Linked DNA regions of Homo sapiens. The protein of the gene in region 1 binds, or shares a complex with, the protein of each later gene. Each region holds a gene or a part of one and is shown in the gene's direction. Other genes may lie near its edges.

Region 1 (3,500 bases):
CAGGGATGCCTGATATAAAAGGAGAACACCAATCTGAGAATGGACTTGTGTGTGTGCACGTGAGAGATGGACGTGAGCTTTGTTTCTGTGTGTCCATGGGTGAGCGTGTTCCTGCAGGCACATGTGCAGGTGCATGGCGTCATCTGTGCAGATGCTTATGCCTCTGTGTGTGCGCATGTGCATACCTAGGTGTGTGCATGTGTGCAAGAGGTATGTGAGAATGTGCATATGTGTGAGGGTGTGGGGATCCATATGTATGTGCGCTTGTGTGTTCATGCACACACATGTGCATGTGTGACTTGAGGTGCGTCTCTGTGCACATGTATGCATTTGTGTGTGCACGCCTGTGTAAGTGTGTATGCAGGTCTGAACAGGTGCATATGCGTGTGCATGTGGCATGTGCATGTGTATTGTGAGGGAGTAAGTGGGTGGGCATGGGAACTCAAGTGTGGGCCTGAGCCCTGTGACTCCCATCCGCTCTCCCCACAGCTACATCGAGAACCAGCAGCATCTGCAGCATCTGGAGCTCCGTGATCTGAGGGGCCTGGGGGAGCTGAGAAACCTGTGAGGGAAACGGGGACTGTGGGTGTGGAGCTCAGCATGGGCCTGGGGGAGACCAGAAGGTCAGGGAGGGCTCAAGCATCCGAGGGCCTGGGAGGACCTGAGAGGCTGAGCACTGAGGGACTGGGAGAAGTCAGGAAGCTCAGGGCTTTGAGGGGTCTAGAGTAGTTGAGGAAACAATGAGGGGCCTGAGGAGGGGTAGGGGTTCAGCACAGGGGACTGGGAGGCTGGGATGGGCAGGGAGGGCCAGGGGCCCAGAGTAGCTGAGACCTGGGGACTGATCCTCCTGCACCCCTCCCCAGCACCATCGTGAAGAGTGGTCTCCGTTTCGTGGCGCCAGATGCCTTCCATTTCACTCCTCGGCTCAGTCGCCTGTGAGTGTGGCCAGTGCTGGGCAGTGGGAGTTGGGGAGGACACCCAGACTTGGGCTGCTAATGGGCTTGGCTGTCCCCGGGGAATGATTGCGAGGAGGGCCCAAGCCTGGTCAGGGAAGTCACCTCACCATTCTCCTGGGGCTTCCTCCCATCTCCCTCAGGGATGGCATGCTCTCGCCCCTGACAGCTAGAGGTCCTCCTTGCCATCTCACTTCCATGGTCCATGCTGCAAGGACACTTCTCATAGGTGCCTGCCCTATCTTTCTTCCCAGGGCTCAGATACACACCAGTGCAAAGGGAGCAAGCGGCAGGAGCAGGACTCCTGGGTTCTGGCTGGGACTCCATTTCCCAGGGACTCATTGACTTGGCCCCTAGGACATCCTGGGAGCTGGGGTGTTAGGTCTGCCACTTGTCACCCTCCTCATTCCTGGGAGTCATAACTATCCCTCCTGTAGAGCAGTGGACCCCAACTTTTTTGGCACCAGAGACTGGTTTCATGGAAGACAATTTTACCACGGATGGTGCGGGAGGAGAGGATGATTTCAGGACGAAACTGTTCCACCTCAGATTATGAGGCATTAGTTAGATTCTCAAAAGGAGCACACAACCTAGATCCCTCACGTGCGCAGTAGTTCACAGAATCTAATGCTGCCATTGATATGACAGGAGGCGGAGCTCAGGCGGTAATGCTCACTCACCGCTGCTCACCTCCTGCTGTGTGGCCCGGTTCCTAAGAGACCACATATTTGCCCTGTTTATAGCCCCTCTTCCTTGCTGTGCTTCTCTTTTTCTTTAATTTATTTTTTAAGAGTCAGGGTCTCCCTCTGTTGCTCAGGCTGGAGAATAGTGGCACTATTACCCATCTGTGGCCTGGGAATTGGGGACCCCTGCTGTAGGACAGAGAGGGTCATGGGATGGGCAGGAGAGACTATCAGAGTCCCTGGCAGCCCCTCCCTGGCCTTCTGAGGGCAGGAGTTCAGCTCCCCTGTCCCCCAATATGAGCAGGCAGAGAGATGGGAAGGATGGTGGGGCTGACACTCATGGAGTTATGCAGGGTCCTCTAAACTCTGCTGTGTCCAGCAATTTAACAAAGCAAAATAAAGTGATGTCATATCACCGTCTATGCACCGGGGCTTCAGTTAAAAACGTGCTCAATGACACTTCACGATACTTATGTCAATGAATCTTCACAATCAACCTGGTGAGAGAGAGAGTGTTCTTGTCCCCATTTCATAGATGAGAATTCTGAGAATCAGAGAGGTTGAGTTTCTGGACTGAGGTCACACAGCTGTAAGTGGCAGGATAGAACTTACACCTGCTCTAGCTGGCTCTAGAGTGGGTTGTGTCTTTGGTCCCTATGTGGTGGTACTTCTCCCACCCAGCCACCACAAATTCTAGGTTGGCTAGGAAAGAAGAGGGGTCAGGATAGGCCCCTCAGAGGCAGAGGGTCCCAGCAGCGGCAGCCTGGCACAGGGCACAGGGCACTGGGGCTCCTACATCATTTTCCTGTGTGGCCTGGAGCCGGGCCCCTGCTGGGCTCACTTTTTCCATCCATACAACGAGGGGGCTGGGGGTGTGGGGGTGTGGGTCCTTTCCTGCCTGACCTTTTAGTCCCTGAGGAGGGCCCGGAAGGAGGAGGAGGAGGGGAGCTGAGGAAGTGCGTGGAGTTCCTTGTGGTCAGGTAGGGGCAAGGGAGTGGCAGCCTCAACCCTCCCCCTCTTCCTCTGGCCCCGTCCTGGGCTCTGTAGGGAGGGGAGCACAGATGGACCCCTTCCCCCAGCTGTGGCCTCAGCACTTTGCCAGCTGGGGCCAAAGCAGTGGGGGAGGGAGGAGCGGCTGTTCCCTCAGATCCCCCTCCCTGGGGTCTGGAGAGGGGGTTAAGTGGGGTTAACCCTTGTTGTCCCAGGGAAAGGAGTGGGACTCAGAAAGTCCCCCCACCCCCCACCCCACCATCTACACACACTGCCTTCCAGGGCTGGTTCTGGTTGCCTAGGCCGGGGCGGGGGAGCCAGATGTCAACTTCTTTCTTGGCTCCTCCCCTCCCTCATTCTGGTCAGAGTGAGGTCGGGTCACTCAAGGGGTCTGTCTTGCTGTGTCTCCACGCCCGCAGGAATCTCTCCTTCAACGCTCTGGAGTCTCTCTCCTGGAAAACTGTGCAGGGCCTCTCCTTACAGGAACTGTGAGTGGGGGCGCTTCCAGGGGCAAGAGCACCAAGTGTGTGTGTGCCTGTGTGCACTTGGGTCTGTTGGATGACATTGGGTCACTGTGTCTGTGTGACACTGCTGGGGGGTCTCTTTGGGGACTATGTGCATGCCAGTGAAACCCCCATCAAAGCAGGGGCTGCAGGACTACCCGTTAAGGGGGCTACTGCCCTGAGGAGCTGGCCTGGATGACTGTGTGTGTGCTGGGCCTGGCTGAGCAGATTACAGGCCCACTGTGTGTCCAAGGCACATCTGCCCACATTCCCAGGGCACCCTGCACAGGGGTGAGTGGGGCAGCAGGGGTCCATGTGTACCTGGTGGGCACTTAAAGCCTCTGGGTCACTCTGGGGGGCTGTGCCCTTCC
Region 2 (4,300 bases), 1.9 Mb from region 1:
TTGAGACGGAGTTTTGCTCTTGTCACCTAGGCTGGAGTGCAATGGCTCGATCTCGGCTCACTGCAACCTCCGCCTCCTGGGTTCGAGCGATTCTCCTGCCTCAGCCTCCTGAGCTGGGATTACAGGTGCCCGCCACCACGCCCAGCTAATTTTTGTATTTTTAGTAGAGACAGGGTTTCACCATGTTGACCAGGCTGGTCTCGAACTCCTGACTTCAGGTGATCCACCCGCCTCAGCCTCCCAAAGTGCTGGTATCACAGGTGTGAGCCACCGCGCCCGGTAGGAATACGTATCTTTGTTTTTTTTTTTTTGGTCACTTTCCAGCTTTGCCTGTGGCATTCTCCGGAAGAGCAGTGGCAGGAAGCCGTGGGTGGCAGGAATGGGTTTGGGACTGTTCCCTGTGTCCAGCTTCAACCCATCTTCTCCTGACACCCCTTTCTCCTGTACTTATTTTTCTCCTGTCCTTATTGACGCAGATGTGTCTTCTGATCTCTCTGTCCCTTCCTGGCCTGTAGTTTCTACTTCTCTTGGAGAACTGTTTCTTCCACCTCCTCCAGCCAGGCTCCTTCCCTGGTGTGAAGGATGCTGTGCTCTTTGGTGGGGCTTAGGGCCCTGTAAGAGGAGGGATGTGAATTGGGGTGGTTTGGAGTGGGAGTGGGGACCTGATTGCCTCATTCTCACCCTTGACAGTGTGCTGTGTTAACAAGCCCTGTGGAAAGGGGAGACAGGACAGTGCTTGGCTATGAGCCATCGGTCTTGGTGTGGTAGATGGCATACGTAGAGAACAAGCCGTGACCAGCATGTCCTCTTGTTCCCTTCTTGCCTGGTAGCTTCCTGATGTATCATCCAGGTTGAACTTTATTCCCCTTTTTTCACCAGCTTTGCTCTTCCTCTTGGCCCTGCTCTGCATCCATTGGGACCACTTACTTCCCATCCCCACTTCGCTAGCTCCAGTCCACAGCTGCTGTAGCAGAGGATGCTAATGGCCCAGGCTTACTGTATGGGGTAGCGGTTGGGGGTGGCCTGGGCTGGGGCCAGCCAGCTTTCGGGCATAGAGAGGGTGGGGGAATTCGAGTGTCCAACCAGGACAGGAAGGGAAATGCTGAGCTCTGAGATCTCCTCCCTTTTCCACCCCCAGCTGCCTCTGTTTCCTCCCTCATTCCCCTGTACTCCTGCCTGGCTTCCTGCCCCCTTTGGCCTGCGTGTGTCCGGTTTTGAGTGACCCAGACCTCCTATCTCCTTCCTTTCCGTCCCACTCTTCCATCCTTCCCTCCCACCCCCACTTTACTTCTCCCCAGATTACTAGTTGTTTGTATAGGGCAGGGGAGAGGGGCTTGGATAGCCCTACCCCCTGCTCCAGTTCGAGGTTGGGGCGGGGTGGGGGCTCAGCCCCTCTGAGCCTGTGAGTCAGCACTGTCCTCACGATTGGTCTCTCCCCTTAGCTCCCCGCCCCTGGGGAGGAGCCAGAAGCGCTGGGTCCAGCCTGTTCTCTTCTCAGCCAGAGAAGAGGCTCCACGTTGGGCGGGGATGGGGCCTGAAACTGTCTGGGTCTGAGCTGGGGAGCGGAAGCCACTTGTCCCTCTCCCTCCCCAGGACTTCTGTGACTCCTGGGCCACAGAGGTCCAACCAGGCTAAGGGCCTGGGGATACCCCCTGCCTGGCCCCCTTGCCCAAACTGGCAGGGGGGCCAGGCTGGGCAGCAGCCCCTCTTTCACCTCAACTATGGATCTCCTGCCCCCCAAGCCCAAGTACAATCCACTCCGGAATGAGTCTCTGTCATCGCTGGAGGAAGGGGCTTCTGGGTCCACCCCCCCGGAGGAGCTGCCTTCCCCATCAGCTTCATCCCTGGGGCCCATCCTGCCTCCTCTGCCTGGGGACGATAGTCCCACTACCCTGTGCTCCTTCTTCCCCCGGATGAGCAACCTGAGGCTGGCCAACCCGGCTGGGGGGCGCCCAGGGTCTAAGGGGGAGCCAGGAAGGGCAGCTGATGATGGGGAGGGGATCGTAGGGGCAGCCATGCCAGACTCAGGCCCCCTACCCCTCCTCCAGGACATGAACAAGCTGAGTGGAGGCGGCGGGCGCAGGACTCGGGTGGAAGGGGGCCAGCTTGGGGGCGAGGAGTGGACCCGCCACGGGAGCTTTGTCAATAAGCCCACGCGGGGCTGGCTGCATCCCAACGACAAAGTCATGGGACCCGGGGTTTCCTACTTGGTTCGGGTGAGTGAACATCCTCCTCTCCATTCCCCCGCAGACCCCCTCCAGTTCTAATGCTCACTCCAGCTTGGCCGGAATCTCTTTTTTCCTGCTGTTCCCCAACAACCCCGTTTCAGTGTCCTATTTCCTAAACCTTTCTCATCCCTTCCCCGATTCTGTAGCCCCTTCCCTTCCAGCTTTGCCTGGGCCCCCTTCCTTCTTTTCACTCCCCCACCCCCACCCTGGCATGCTTAGCACAATGCCCAGCATGGCAGAAGCTCTTAATAAGTGTTGGAATGAATGACTTCTTGATCTTTCCTCCATTCTCCTCCCGCTTTCTGGAGTTGTCACTCCATCCCAGCCAATGCCTGTCGGTCCCCTCCAAACTCTCTCCCCAGTGTGTGAGGTCCTTCTAGCCTGCCTTTTCTTTTTCTCCTCATTCCCTGTTGTCTTTCACCTTGGTTGTGGGATGTAGCCACGGGAAGTGGGCAGAACTTCTTCCTCTTTACTTCCCTTAGGGACCATATGGGTAAAGTCCTAGGGCCCTTTGTGAAGGGGCTGGGGTGGGGGAGCCGCTGACCTGCTGTCCTCTTCTCCCTCCCCTTAGTACATGGGTTGTGTGGAGGTCCTCCAGTCAATGCGTGCCCTGGACTTCAACACCCGGACTCAGGTCACCAGGTTAGTGGGGAGGGAGTGGATTGTGGGAGTCCTGGGATTAGTGAGGCCATGGGAAACAGAGGAGGGGAGTGGGTCACTTGGGTGCTGCTGCTGGGGGCTGATCTTTGCGTAGTAAAGGGGATTGAGAGAAAGCTGAGGTAGTGATTCCGCCTCTTACTGAAAGGAGGCCCCTTTGGCCCGGATCCTCCTTACCTATCCAGCCTTGGGAGTTGTGGGGAAGGTGGCAGAAGCAGCTGGCAGGTGGAGCTGGAGTAGAAAAGGGGGGTAGATGGAAGGTTGCTGCTGCCTTTGGGAAGGGAATGGGACATTTGGTAGCTGGAAGGGGGTGGGGCTATACCCATTGAGGCCCTAACCCAATCAGCCAGGAAGTGGCCTCTCAGTGTCATCAAATATTAAAGGCCCTTAATTCAATCCACCATGACAAAGAGCCTGGAGTGCCCTGGGAGTCTGGCCTGGCTTTCCCCTCCCCCAGCCCTGTGGCAGCCCCAGTTGAGTGGGAGGCAGGCAGGCAGGCGCTGGGTCTGAGTACCCCTCTTTCCCCAGGGAGGCCATCAGTCTGGTGTGTGAGGCTGTGCCGGGTGCTAAGGGGGCGACAAGGAGGAGAAAGGTACTTGGGGTCCTTGGGGATAGGGATGCTGCTGGGAAATGTGGAGGGGCAGTGGGGAGGCAAGTGTGGGGCATGTGGGGAGAGGGCCAGGAGGCAAAAGTGTGGTTTGCCTGTGCTGGGAACCCTCACCTTCTGAGACCCTGGGCCCTACCTTAGCCCTGTAGCCGCCCGCTCAGCTCTATCCTGGGGAGGAGTAACCTGAAATTTGCTGGAATGCCAATCACTCTCACCGTCTCCACCAGCAGCCTCAACCTCATGGCCGCAGACTGCAAACAGGTTGGTGAAGGTGGGCAGACGGACCAGAAACACTGATGGGGGTGCTAAGGGGAGATCTAGTTAGGAGGCCAAAATCTAGGAAGAGGGCTTGAGAGCAGGAGACCAGTAGGGAAGGAGGAAATGAGGATATGGGATAAGGAACCCAGAGAATGAGACTGGGGCACCAGGGTTCTGGGCCCTGAGGCTGCCTGACACATGGCATTCCCTTCCTTCTTCATCCCCTGCCCTAATTCTCAGATCATCGCCAACCACCACATGCAATCTATCTCATTTGCATCCGGCGGGGATCCGGTGAGTTGGGGAACAGAGCAAAGGCGGTGGGAGAAGAGCAAGGGGCTAGGGATTGGGAAGACATTGATTAGAGAAGTGGGGGTGCTAGGATTGTGGGGATATCTGAAAAGGACTGGGTTTTAGGGGTCAGGAGTAAAGTAGAACTGTAAAATTTTTTGACCTTCCTCCCCAGGACACAGCCGAGTATGTCGCCTATGTTGCCAAAGACCCTGTGAATCAGAGAGGTGAGGCATGGTGGGGAGCACTGGGTGGGTCT

The links.
Region 2: the proteins of NTRK1 (region 1) and SHC1 are in contact, whole or in part, in an NMR structure (PDB 1SHC), measured with the Homo sapiens proteins. Residues at the interface, in NP_002520.2 of Homo sapiens: His489, Ile490, Ile491, Glu492, Asn493, Pro494, Gln495, Tyr496, Phe497; in NP_892113.4 of Homo sapiens: Met176, Arg177, Ala178, Leu179, Ser259, Ile260, Ser261, Phe262, Ala263, Ser264, Gly265, Gly266, Lys279, Asn283, Arg285, Ile301, Ile304, Gly305, Phe308, Glu309, Phe312, Lys313, Gln314, Tyr315.

The regions. Positions count from the first base shown.
Region 1 is NC_000001.11:156,863,865-156,867,364, forward strand, and holds part of NTRK1 (high affinity nerve growth factor receptor isoform 2 precursor), read left to right. Parts: intron 1-489; coding exon 490-564; intron 565-863; coding exon 864-935; intron 936-3,045; coding exon 3,046-3,114; intron 3,115-3,500. UniProt on the Homo sapiens protein: Receptor tyrosine kinase involved in the development and the maturation of the central and peripheral nervous systems through regulation of proliferation, differentiation and survival of sympathetic and nervous neurons.
Region 2 is NC_000001.11:154,967,948-154,972,247, reverse strand, and holds the start of SHC1 (SHC-transforming protein 1), read left to right. Parts: upstream 1-1,500; 5' UTR 1,501-1,721; coding exon 1,722-2,216; intron 2,217-2,799; coding exon 2,800-2,870; intron 2,871-3,413; coding exon 3,414-3,477; intron 3,478-3,633; coding exon 3,634-3,753; intron 3,754-3,990; coding exon 3,991-4,044; intron 4,045-4,216; coding exon 4,217-4,268; intron 4,269-4,300. UniProt on the Homo sapiens protein: Signaling adapter that couples activated growth factor receptors to signaling pathways. Participates in a signaling cascade initiated by activated KIT and KITLG/SCF.